3 linked regions of the Homo sapiens genome follow. The protein of the gene in region 1 purifies or fractionates together with the protein of each later gene. This does not show direct contact. Each region holds a gene or a part of one and is shown in the gene's direction. Other genes may lie near its edges. The genes, in order: DNAJC16, KLC1 and IFT88.

What was found.
Region 2: the proteins of DNAJC16 (region 1) and KLC1 purify together in Homo sapiens (affinity purification with mass spectrometry, with the first as the bait; one large-scale study listed by BioGRID). This does not show direct contact.
Region 3: the proteins of DNAJC16 (region 1) and IFT88 purify together in Homo sapiens (co-immunoprecipitation; one large-scale study listed by IntAct). This does not show direct contact.

What each region holds. Positions count from the first base shown.
Region 1 is NC_000001.11:15,557,833-15,561,562, forward strand, and holds part of DNAJC16 (dnaJ homolog subfamily C member 16 isoform 1 precursor), read left to right. Parts: intron 1-1,693; coding exon 1,694-1,824; intron 1,825-3,730. UniProt on the Homo sapiens protein: Plays an important role in regulating the size of autophagosomes during the formation process.
Region 2 is NC_000014.9:103,653,021-103,656,750, forward strand, and holds part of KLC1 (kinesin light chain 1), read left to right. Parts: intron 1-1,543; 5' UTR 1,544-1,544; coding exon 1,545-1,805; intron 1,806-3,730. UniProt on the Homo sapiens protein: Kinesin is a microtubule-associated force-producing protein that may play a role in organelle transport. The light chain may function in coupling of cargo to the heavy chain or in the modulation of its ATPase activity.
Region 3 is NC_000013.11:20,601,657-20,605,156, forward strand, and holds part of IFT88 (intraflagellar transport protein 88 homolog), read left to right. Parts: intron 1-48; coding exon 49-277; intron 278-3,378; coding exon 3,379-3,449; intron 3,450-3,500. UniProt on the Homo sapiens protein: Positively regulates primary cilium biogenesis. Also involved in autophagy since it is required for trafficking of ATG16L and the expansion of the autophagic compartment.

The sequences.
Region 1 (3,730 bases):
AGTGATCCTCACCCTTCAACCTCCCAAGTAGCTGGGACTACAGGCACATGCCACCATGCCCAGCTAACAACTTTTTTTTTCCTTTTTTTTCTTTTATGAGACAGGGTTTCACTCCCGTTGCCCAGGCTGGTATGCTCTCCCAGCCTCAAGCAGTCCTCCTGCCTCAGCCTCCTGAGTAGCTGGGACTAAGGCCACGCCTGGCTAATTTTTGTACTTTTAGTAGAGACAGGGTTTCACTATGTTGCACAGGCTGGTCTTGAACTCCTGACCTCAAGTGATCCACCTGCCTTGACTTCCCAAAGTGCTGGGATTACAGGCATGAGCCACCATACCCAGCCCTTTTTTTTTTTTTTTTTTTTTTTTCTTGAGACAGGGTCTCAGTCTGTCACACAGGCTAGAGTCCAGTGGTGTGATCCTAGCTCACTGCAGTCTCTTAAGTCTTGGGCTCAAGCAGTCCTCCCACCTCCACCTCCCAGGTAGCTGGGATTGCAGGCATGCACCACCATCATGCCTGGCTAATGTTTTTTTATTTTTAGTAGAGACAAGATCTCATTATGTTGCCCAGGCTGGTCTCGATCTTCTAAGCTCAAGCAATCCTCCTGCTTCGGCCTCCCAAAGTTCGGGGATTATAGGAGTGAGCCACTGTGCCTGGCCTTTTGTTTGTTTGTTTTTAATTTTTTGTAGAGATGGGATCTCTCCATGTTGCACAGGCTGGTCTCTAACTCTTGGGTTCAAGGGATCCTCTTGCCTTGGCCTCCCAAAGCATTTGGGTTAGAGGAATGAGCCTCCATACCTGGCCGTGTTTCTTAATTTCCAAACATAAAGGGAAATGTTTACATTTCTGGTTTGCATTTTAAATGGAATTCTAGGTTAATTACCTTGTGGTCAGAATACCTGCTGTCAATGATTTCAATCCTTTGAAATGTGTGAAAGTTAGCAATAAAATGGTCACACGGTTTTGTAACCTGCCTTTTATACTTTGCAACATTGTTGCTTTGGGATTTATTTTTAATTGCCCAGTTCGCTACAAATCCTGAATGGAAATAATTTTGCCTAAAATTCAAAATGATTGACTTTTCGTTTTGGGTTTTTGTTTTGTTTTGTGTTTGGTTTTGTTTTGTTTTTGAGATGGAGTCTCGCTCTGTCGCCCAGGCTAAAGTGCAGTGGCGTGATCTCGGCTCACTGCAACCTCCGTCTCCCAGGTTCAACTGATTCTCTTGCCTCAGCCTTCCAAGTAGCTGGGACTACAGACACACGTCACCATGCCTGGCTAATTTCTGTATTTTTAGCAGAGACGGGGTTTCACTATGTTGGCCAGGCTGGTCTCAAACTCCTGACCTCGTGATCTACCCACCTCAGCCTCCCAAAGTTCTAGGATTTCAGATGTGAGCCACCACGTCCGGCCATGACTGACTTTTTTAATTTGTCAGCATAAAACAGTGAATAAAAATTCTCCAGTGGAAAGTGTACTTGATTTTCCCTTTGACCCGAAATAGCTGCATCATTGCTTTCAGCCCTGCATTGCTGAAATAGATCACCACATGTTTATTCGCTCAAACAGGTCTGTCTTGTTTGGTTATATTACTTTAGCCAAGGTCAGCTACGTTTTTATTAAGCTGGTAAGTAAAGAAAGCCCATCTATTTGCATTGAGAACACTGCATAAAATCTAGCTGATTCTTGGTTTTTCTCTAGGCCCGAGGTATGAAGAAGCAAATCATTGACGACTTCATCACCCGAAACAAATATCTATTGGCAGCCAGGCTCACCAGCCAGAAGTTGTTCCATGAACTCTGCCCTGTGAAACGGTCGCATCGACAGAGGAAGTAAGGACTTAAGGCTTTGCCTCTGCTTGTTATTACAATAGAAGGATCATGATTCATTTTACTATAGGGTGACTAGACATCTGCCCTGTAACATTGAGAACTTATTCTTCATTTAACAAATACTGGGCCGGGCATGGTGGCTCATGCCTGTAATCCCAGCACTTTGGGAGGCCGAGGAGGGCGGATCATCTGAGGTCCGGAGTTCAAGACCAGCCTGACCAACATGGAGAAACCCCATCTCTACTAAAAATACAAAATTAGCCGGGCATGGTGGCTTATGCCTGTAATCCCAGCTACTAGGGAGGCTGAGGCAGGAGAATCACTTGAACCTGGGAGGCAGAGGTTGCGGTGAGCCGAGATCATGCCATTGCACTCCAGCCTGGGCAACAAGAGTGAAACTCTGTCTCAAAAAAAAAAAAAAAAAAAACACTGATTAGTGACTGTGATGGTAATCATACTAATATGATGTATTAGTCCAGGGCACTTTAGCACCAAATTGTCAGATGTGCCAGCCTGTCCTAGTGGTCAGAGAAGATTTCCCTAAGATGTAACATTTCAGCTGAGACCTGAAGGATGAGCACAGTTTAGCCAGGCGTCTGGGATAGACTGGGTCACTTTACAGAAGCACAGAATATGGAAGAGTGACTGTCCCTACTAAAGCATTCCACACAGGGTGAGTCTTTGGAGGTCTTGGGAAGGAGCAAGGATAACAATTAAACAGTAGGGAAGTACAGAGTATTGAGGAAATGGATTGGTGGGAATCGGGAAGGCTAAGTTACATGTATTCAATAAAGTAGGAAGAGTTATTATACAAAGTATCTAAAAAGTCTAGAAATTCAGGGAATGTATTCATTACACCTTCTCAGGTGAATGAATCAGTAGCTTTAAATTTAGGGCTGTTTCATCTGTAAAAGGTATCTGGATATGGAAGGAAAACATATCAATCATGTAACTTGAAAATATAAAACATAATTTCCCTGTGTGTCTAGGCTTTTCAGATTCCTTTATAGTCTTAAGAGCGAAGAAAAAAATGACTTAAATATAAAAAAAGAATATCCTGGACTGTAAGGATTGTTGTTTACACAGCCTTCAAAAAATATCCCAAATCCACACACTTCTCACTTTTTTTAACCACTGCCACCCTGGAACAAGCCACCATCGTCTCCCAGCGAGACCCCCCTGGCAGCCTTCTAACTAGTCTCTCTGCTCCATTCCACTCTTGTACCCTCCAGGCAGATGTCCACACGTCAGCCAATAATGTTTGAAAATGCAAATCAGATCCAGTCACTCCCCATCCTGGGGTCTTTGCACTTGTAGTCTCTCTACCTGGGATGCTCTGACCCCATTTCCTGTCATAACAATGTCACCTTTTCAGTTGGCACTTCCCTGACCAACCTGTCTGATGGAGCCTGGCTTCTACCCACTCTGGCCTCTCTCTGTCCCCTTTTCATCTTTTTTTTTTTTTTTAATATATAGCACTTGTTGATACCTGTCATAATATATCTGTTTTCTGTCTTCCCCACTGGAATATAAGCTCCATGAGGGCAATAATATTGTCTATATTACCTGACATATACTAAGTGCTCAGTAAATATTTTTGGGAGAATGAATAGCTAAACTTTCCATTGGAACCTTGCAAAGGAAGCCGTTCAGAATGAGGCTCAGTGGCCTCTGGCCTGAGAGAGATTTGACCAGCCCTCCCTATACTGGAAGAACTAGGACAAATAGTTTCTAAAAGGCCCTGCCGGCCAGGAACAGTGGCTCACGCCTATAATCCCAGCACTTTGGGGGGCTGAGGCAGGCGGATCACTTGAGGTCAGGAGTTTGAGACCAGCCTGGCCAACATAGTGAAAACCCGTCTCTACTAAAAATACAAAAACTAGTTGGGTGAGGTGGTGCACGCCTA
Region 2 (3,730 bases), on another chromosome or scaffold:
AGCTTTTCTTCCCTTCATGCAGCGTCTGTCAGTCCATCCATTCACTACATGGACTTTCTGGGCCAGGAGCTGCCTCTAGAAGCTGTGGAGTCCTACAAGATCAAGTCCCTGCCTTTTTTCTTTTTTTGGGAATTTTTTAAAGAGACAGGGTCTTGCTCCGTCACCCAGGCTAGAGTGCAGAGGTACCATCATAGCTGACTGTCACCTCAAATTCCTGGACTCAAGCGATCCTTGTGCCTCACTGAGCCTCCTGGGTAGCAAGGAATACCTGCACATACCACCCAGCTAATTTTACTTCATTTATTTTTATTTATTTATTTAGGCAGAGTCTCGCTCTGTCACCCAGGCTGGAGTGCAGTAGTGAGATCTTGGCTCACTGCAACCTCTGCCTCCCGGGCTCAAGTGATTCTCGTGCCTCAGCCCCCTGAGTAGCTGGGACCACAGGCGTGTGCCAGCACACTCACCTAATTTTTGTATTTTTAGTTGAGACAGGGTTTCGCCGTGTTGGCCGGCTGGTTTTGAACTCCTGCCATCAAGTGATCCGCCTGCCTTGGCCTCCCAAAGTGCTGGAATTATAGGAATGAGCCACCATGCCTGGCTGTCCTGCCTTTTTAAATAAGAGCTTATATTCAAGGTGACATTAGACACTTAATGAATCGTGAGATTTTAGACAGTGGCAGTGCTGTGAAGGAAATAACTCTGACGTGTAATCTTGCCTCCATCCCTGTCACTGTGCCGAAAAAGATCACTGCTCACTATCTTTCTGTTTTTTAAACTTAACTATGGGTTTTTAAGACTTAGAAAAAAGGAGAGAGGCTAGCAGAGGGAACCATTGCTCAGTGACAGCGGCTGTCAGGCACAACAGCACAAATGATGCTGTTTTTATATTCCCCTTTCCTCCCCCTTTTCTTTCTCACTTTGGTGTTTGAAAGCCCCTTCCAGACATTGCATCACATCACCCTGGGCCTGGCCCTGGTGGTGCTTCGCTGTGCCATCCTCATCTGTGAGCCTGCCCGGTGACCGTGCTGCACCTGTCCTTGATGCCCTGTGTCTTCCAGGTCTGCTCCTCCCCTGCTGCTCTTCCTGTTCCATGTTCTTTGGCTGGTTTTTCTTTCTTCTTCCAGCTGTGTGACTCCTTTTCAAGCCTTTGTCCAGTTAAACATTTTACCAAGAATGTAGTGTTCTTCCTGCATTTCATTAGGAAGAGAAAAAGGCTTGCAAACATTCTGAGAAAAAATGTTGTTCACCGAGGCTATGTGTTTTGGAAATGCCATTTAGATGTTTTGCTGCTTTTAATCTTTGGCATTAATTTCAGTTGCTGTCATAAAAAAGAATTAAGACATAAACCAGAAAAGTAATTAAATGTGTCTGCAAAGGAAAAACAGAAACTGCAGAATATGGTATTTCAAGGTCATAAATTACAAATGTGCATATTTATTATTCCCCTATAAAATGTTAATTAAAAAATTTTCATATTTACTTGATGTAACAGAAATGAAACCTGTAATGAGGGATCTAATTTCTTTTTCTTTTTTCATTCCAGAATGTATGACAACATGTCCACAATGGTGTACATAAAGGAAGACAAGTTGGAGAAGCTTACACAGGATGAAATTATTTCTAAGACAAAGCAAGTAATTCAGGGGCTGGAAGCTTTGAAGAATGAGCACAATTCCATTTTACAAAGTTTGCTGGAGACACTGAAGTGTTTGAAGAAAGATGATGAAAGTAATTTGGTGGAGGAGAAATCAAACATGATCCGGAAGTCACTGGAGATGTTGGAGCTCGGCCTGAGTGAGGCACAGGTACGAGTGAGAATGACTCAGACGTTATCAGGAACTTTTGATGGTAAAATGGAGACTTGTTTGAAATAAGCAGTTTCACTAAAGAAGAGGAAAGATGATTATAGAATAACAGATCCAGGCCGAGTGCGGTGTGGCTCAGGCCTGTAATCCAAGCACTTTGGGAGGCTGAGGCAGGTGGATCACTTGAGGTCAGGAGTTTGAGACCAGCCTGGCCAACATAGCGAAACCCTGACTCTACTAAAAATACAAAAATTAGCCGGGCCTGGTGGCTGGCGTGTGTAATCCAGCTACTAGGCAGGCTTGAGGCAGGAGAATCACTTGAACCTGGGAGGCAGAGGTTGCAGGGAGCCAAAATTGCATCACTGCACTCCAGCCTGGGTGACAGAGCGAGACTTTTTCTCAAAGAAAAAACAAAACAAAACAGATCATGTGTTCTGTATGTTAATAAATTACTATTGATTTGGGCCTATCAGAATTGTATTGATTGATTGATTGAGATGGAGTTTTGCTCTTGCTGCCCAGGCTGGAGTGCAGTGATGCAGTCTCGGCTCACTGCATCCTCTGCCTCCTGGGCTCAAATGATTCTCCTGCCTCAGCCTCCCAAGTAGCTGGGATTACAGGCATGGGCCACCACACCTGGCTAATTTTGTATTTTTAGTAGAGACAGGGTTTCTCCATGTTGGTTAGGCTGGTCTTGAACTCCCAACCTCACGTGATCCACCTGCCTCAGCAAAGTGTTGGGATTACAGGCGCGAGCCACCATGCCCGGCCTCTGAATTTTATTTTTATTTTTATTTTTTTGAGACAGTGTTTGCTCTCGCCGCCCAGGCTGGAGTGCAATGGCTCAATCTCAGATCACTGCAACCTCTGTCCCCCGGGTTCAAGTGATTCTCCTGCCTCAGCCTCCCAAGTAGCTGGGATTACAGGCACATACCACCATTCCTGGCTAATTTTTTGTATTTTTAGTAGAAACTAAAATGTTGGCCAGGCTGGTCTTGAACTCCTGACCTCAGGGCCTCTCTGAATTTTGAAAAGCGGATCCAAAATAGTGGATACTGCTGTGTATCATTTAGGATTTGATTTGGCTGCCAGTATCAAAAAAACAAAAACAGTGGCTTAAACCACAAGATGTTTGTCAAATAAGTACTGAGGTACACTCTCCTGGACGGGTTCTGTAGCTACACAGTCATCGGGGATACTCAGGTTCCTAACATCTGCCACACTGCACCTTGGCAGCCTGTCTTGGGGACTGAGAGTGAGCTCCATGTGGCCCTGTTCTAGCATAGGGGAAGGGAAAGGAAGGACGTGCCTCCTTCCTTGAAGGCTGCTGCTTTGATGATGTGTACAGCAGTGCTTACATTGCATTGGCCAGACCTTATGGCTGTACCTGGGTGAGTGGGAGACTGGGGAATGTTGTCTTCCCACTTACAGTGGCAGGTCCTTAAGCCTAAGGAAGGAGAATGGACACTGGCCAGTGGGTGATGGTCTCTGCAATCCCAGGGCCAGATTGCTTCATATCTTTGACTAACCTTTGTTTCTATAATATCATGCTTGACATAGAGATGAAAACACTGGAAACATCTAGGTTTTTAAATACTCTCTCCTGATAACTTCTGGCTCTGTCAGCATATCTTAGGTAAAATTAAATATACCAAAGCTTTGCTTCTTTCTTAGCATTCTCTAGTTTAGTGAGTGAATAGAGCAGAAGAGGGGCTGCTGGCCAGCGGTTTCTGCTTTCATAGAGGAAGTGACTGCCCACACCCTGATTTTAGAGTCTTCATCCTAACCATGTTACAGCCTTGAGTTGCAGAACTGTAGCTCTGTTTGGATATTGTGAACGTATTATTTCTCAAGTTCTGTTACCTTGAGAACAGGTGACATGAATTTAAACTTGCTTTTTTGGTGTCGCAGATAAGAGTTTTAAA
Region 3 (3,500 bases), on another chromosome or scaffold:
ACTAAAGAGTTCAGAATTTTAAAGCTAATCCATGTCTTTTTCTTTTAGGATTAAAATAATGCAGAATATTGGAGTTACATTTATTCAGGCTGGTCAGTATTCAGATGCTATTAATTCATATGAGCACATAATGAGCATGGCACCAAATCTGAAGGCAGGCTACAACCTAACTATCTGTTATTTTGCTATTGGAGACCGAGAAAAAATGAAGAAGGCATTCCAAAAATTGATTACTGTTCCATTAGAAATTGATGAAGATAAATATATTTCACCAAGTGTGAGTATGAAAAAGACATTTCTGTAGCCACTTCCCACTTATCTGTGCTTTTCTGTTTTCAGAATGAGAAAGCCAGAATAGATGACTTCTTGGGTTTTTCCCAGGCCTGTATCAATGTGTTTTATTATTGATGTATTTCATTTTTTATTTAAATTGGGTTGAGAATGAGACTCTATTGAAATGGGGTAGAGATTATGGTTAAAACAGACTGCACAATTTTAGTAAAAAAATCATTAAAAATAAGATTCCATGTCATTCATTAAGCATAATATCTTTTTTTTTTTTTTTTTTTTGAGACAGAGAGCCTGCCTTCCAGGCTGGAGTGCAGTGGTGCAGTCTCAGCTCACTGCAATCTCTGCCTCCCAGGCTCTGGCAATTCTCATGCCTCAGCCTCCTGAGTAGCTGGGATTACAGGCATGCGCCACCATGCCCGGCTAAGTTTTTTATTTTTAGTAGAGAAGGGGTTTTGCCATGTTGCCCAGGCTGGTCTTGAACTCCTGGCCTCATGTGATCCACCTGCCTCCACTTTCCAAAGTGCTGGGATTACAGGTATGAGCCTGGCCAAGGGTAATATCTTGACCAAGAAACCTCCAAATCCTTATTTCACCTATTAAGAGCCATTGTGGAGCAGAGGGAACCTCAACTGTGTATAAATATCTCAAGAGCGAAGGCTGGGCGCAGTGGCTCACACCTGTAATTCCAGCACTTTGGGAGGCTGAGGTGGGCAGATTGCGAGGTCAGTAGTTTGAGACCAGCCTGACCAACAGGGCGAAATGCTGTCTCTACCGAAAATACAAAAATTAGCTGGGTATGGTGGTGGGCGCCTGTAATCCCAGCTACTTGGGAGGCTGAGGCAGGAGAATTGCTTGAACTTGGGAGGTGGAGGTTGCAGTGAGCCAAGATTGTGCCACTGCACTCCATCCTGGGTGACAGAGCAAGACTCTGTCTTGAAAAAAAAAAAGTGAAATAAATTCCTTATCCTTACTCATAGAGTGGAACATAATGCAGTTATCAAAAGTCATATTTTCAAACACCTAGAGAAATATTATATAATGTTAAGTGAAAACATACAGCTATGCACACTTATACATGAACATAAACTGGAAGAATTGACACCAATATAAAACAGTAGTTTCTGAGCTATGAGATTGTAAATGCTTTTGAAATATTTTCCAGATTTTTACAAATAAAATATTGGCATACTGTATATTAGTTTAAGGAAAATTGCCTCTATTTGTAGATAAAAATGGTACATTTTCAATTTCACAGAGTTGAACTTTTAATAGATTTTCTTAACAGATTATATTAGCTGGGCATGGTGGCGGGTGCCTGTAATCCCAGTTACTAGGGAGGCTGAGGCAGGAGAATCACTTGAACCCGGAAGGTGGAGGTTGCAGGAGCCGAGATCGCACTATTCACTCCAGCCTGGGTGACAAGAGCAAAACTCCATCTCAAAAAAAAAAAAAAAAAGATTATAAGAGTACTGTAGCATAGCAGAGTATAGGCTCTGAAGCCAGATGCCTTGGCTCTCCTACTCAGCTCTTACTCTCCCTGTGTCTCAGTTCTTTTATATATGTAATGGGATTAACTATTATAACCTATCTTACAGGGTTAAGGTGAGGATTATAGGTGAGGATTAAATGAGTTAATGCATGTGAAATGCTTAAAATAGTACCTGGCAGCTGGGCACAGTGGCTCACACCTGTAATCCCAGCACTTTGGGAGGCCGAGGTGGGAGGATTGCTTGAGCCTGAGAGTTCAAGATCAGCCTGCGCAACATGGCGAAACTCCATCTCTACAAAAAAATACGAAAATTAGCCAGGCTTGATGTTGCACACCTGTAGTCCCAGCTACTTGGGAGGCTGAGGTGGGAGGATCACCTGAGCCCGAGGAGGTCAAGGCTGCAGTGAGCCGTGATCACACCCCTGCACACTAGCTTGGGTGACAGAGTAAGACCTTGTCTCAAAAAAATAAAAAATTAGCCAGCCTGGTGGTGTGCACCTGTAGTCCCAGCTACTCTGGAGGCTGAGGTGGGAGGATCATCTAAGCCCGGGGAGGTCAAGGGTTTAGTGAGTTGTGATCACAACATTGCTCTCCAGCCTGGATGACAGAGTGAGACCTTGTCTCAAAAGTAAAATAACAAATAAAAAAAATATATATTAGCCAGGCATGGTGGCACATGTCTGTAGTCCCACCTACTCGAGAAGCTGAGTGGGAAGATGGCTTGAGCCCAGAAGTTGAGACTGCAGTGACCCATGATCATGCCACAGTGCTCCAGTCTGGGCAACAGAGCAAGACTCTGTCTCAAAACAAAACTAACCAAACAAAAAAAATGTATGTGAAAGATAGTTAAGTGCTGGGCAAATGTTAATTATTATATATTATTTTCATATTGAGAAAAAATAATATATGTTGTAAAATCATCTGTGTTTTTAATGGGGAGTAGAGATATGGATCATACTAAGTAATTGATGATTGAAGCATTTATATTTGAGTTTAGAATTAAAGTATTACATATTTGTACTAACAACCCCAGCTTCTGTGTACTTGGTCCTAATCTTTCCATCCTGATCCTTTTATCAGCTTCTTAGAATAGGTTAGTTCAATGGAGAATGTGATTGGTAATCAGAAATATGAAAAAGAAAGTTCTAATTTACATAAGGGAAAATAGAAGGATTAATTTACTCTCCCTTTTTTAAAACTAATTAGTAGGGAGGCTTATTGGAAATTCAAGTTCGTGGCTGGACATGATGGCTTATGCCTATAGTCCCAATACTTTGAAAGGCTGAGGTGAGCAAATTGCTTGAGCCAAGGAATTGAAGACCAGCCTGGGCAAAATGGTGAAACCTCATCTCTACAAAAAATACAAAAATTAGCCAGGCATCATGGCATGCCCCTGTAGTCCCAGCTACTTGGGAGGCTGAGGTGGGAGGATCACCTGAGCCCAGGGAGGTGGAGGCTGCAGTGAGCCATGATCATGCCACTGCACTGCAGCCTGGGCAATAGAGTGAGGCTGTATCTCAAAACAAAACAAAACAAAAATTAAGTTCTTGCTGTTTACTTCTGAATTATTCTTTTTTTCTTCCATTTTATTTTACCAGGATGATCCTCATACTAACTTAGTAACTGAAGCTATAAAAAATGATCACCTCAGGCAAATGGAACGTGAAAGGTAATATTTTAAACTTAATAACGTAGTTATTAATTACATTATTTAAAATAT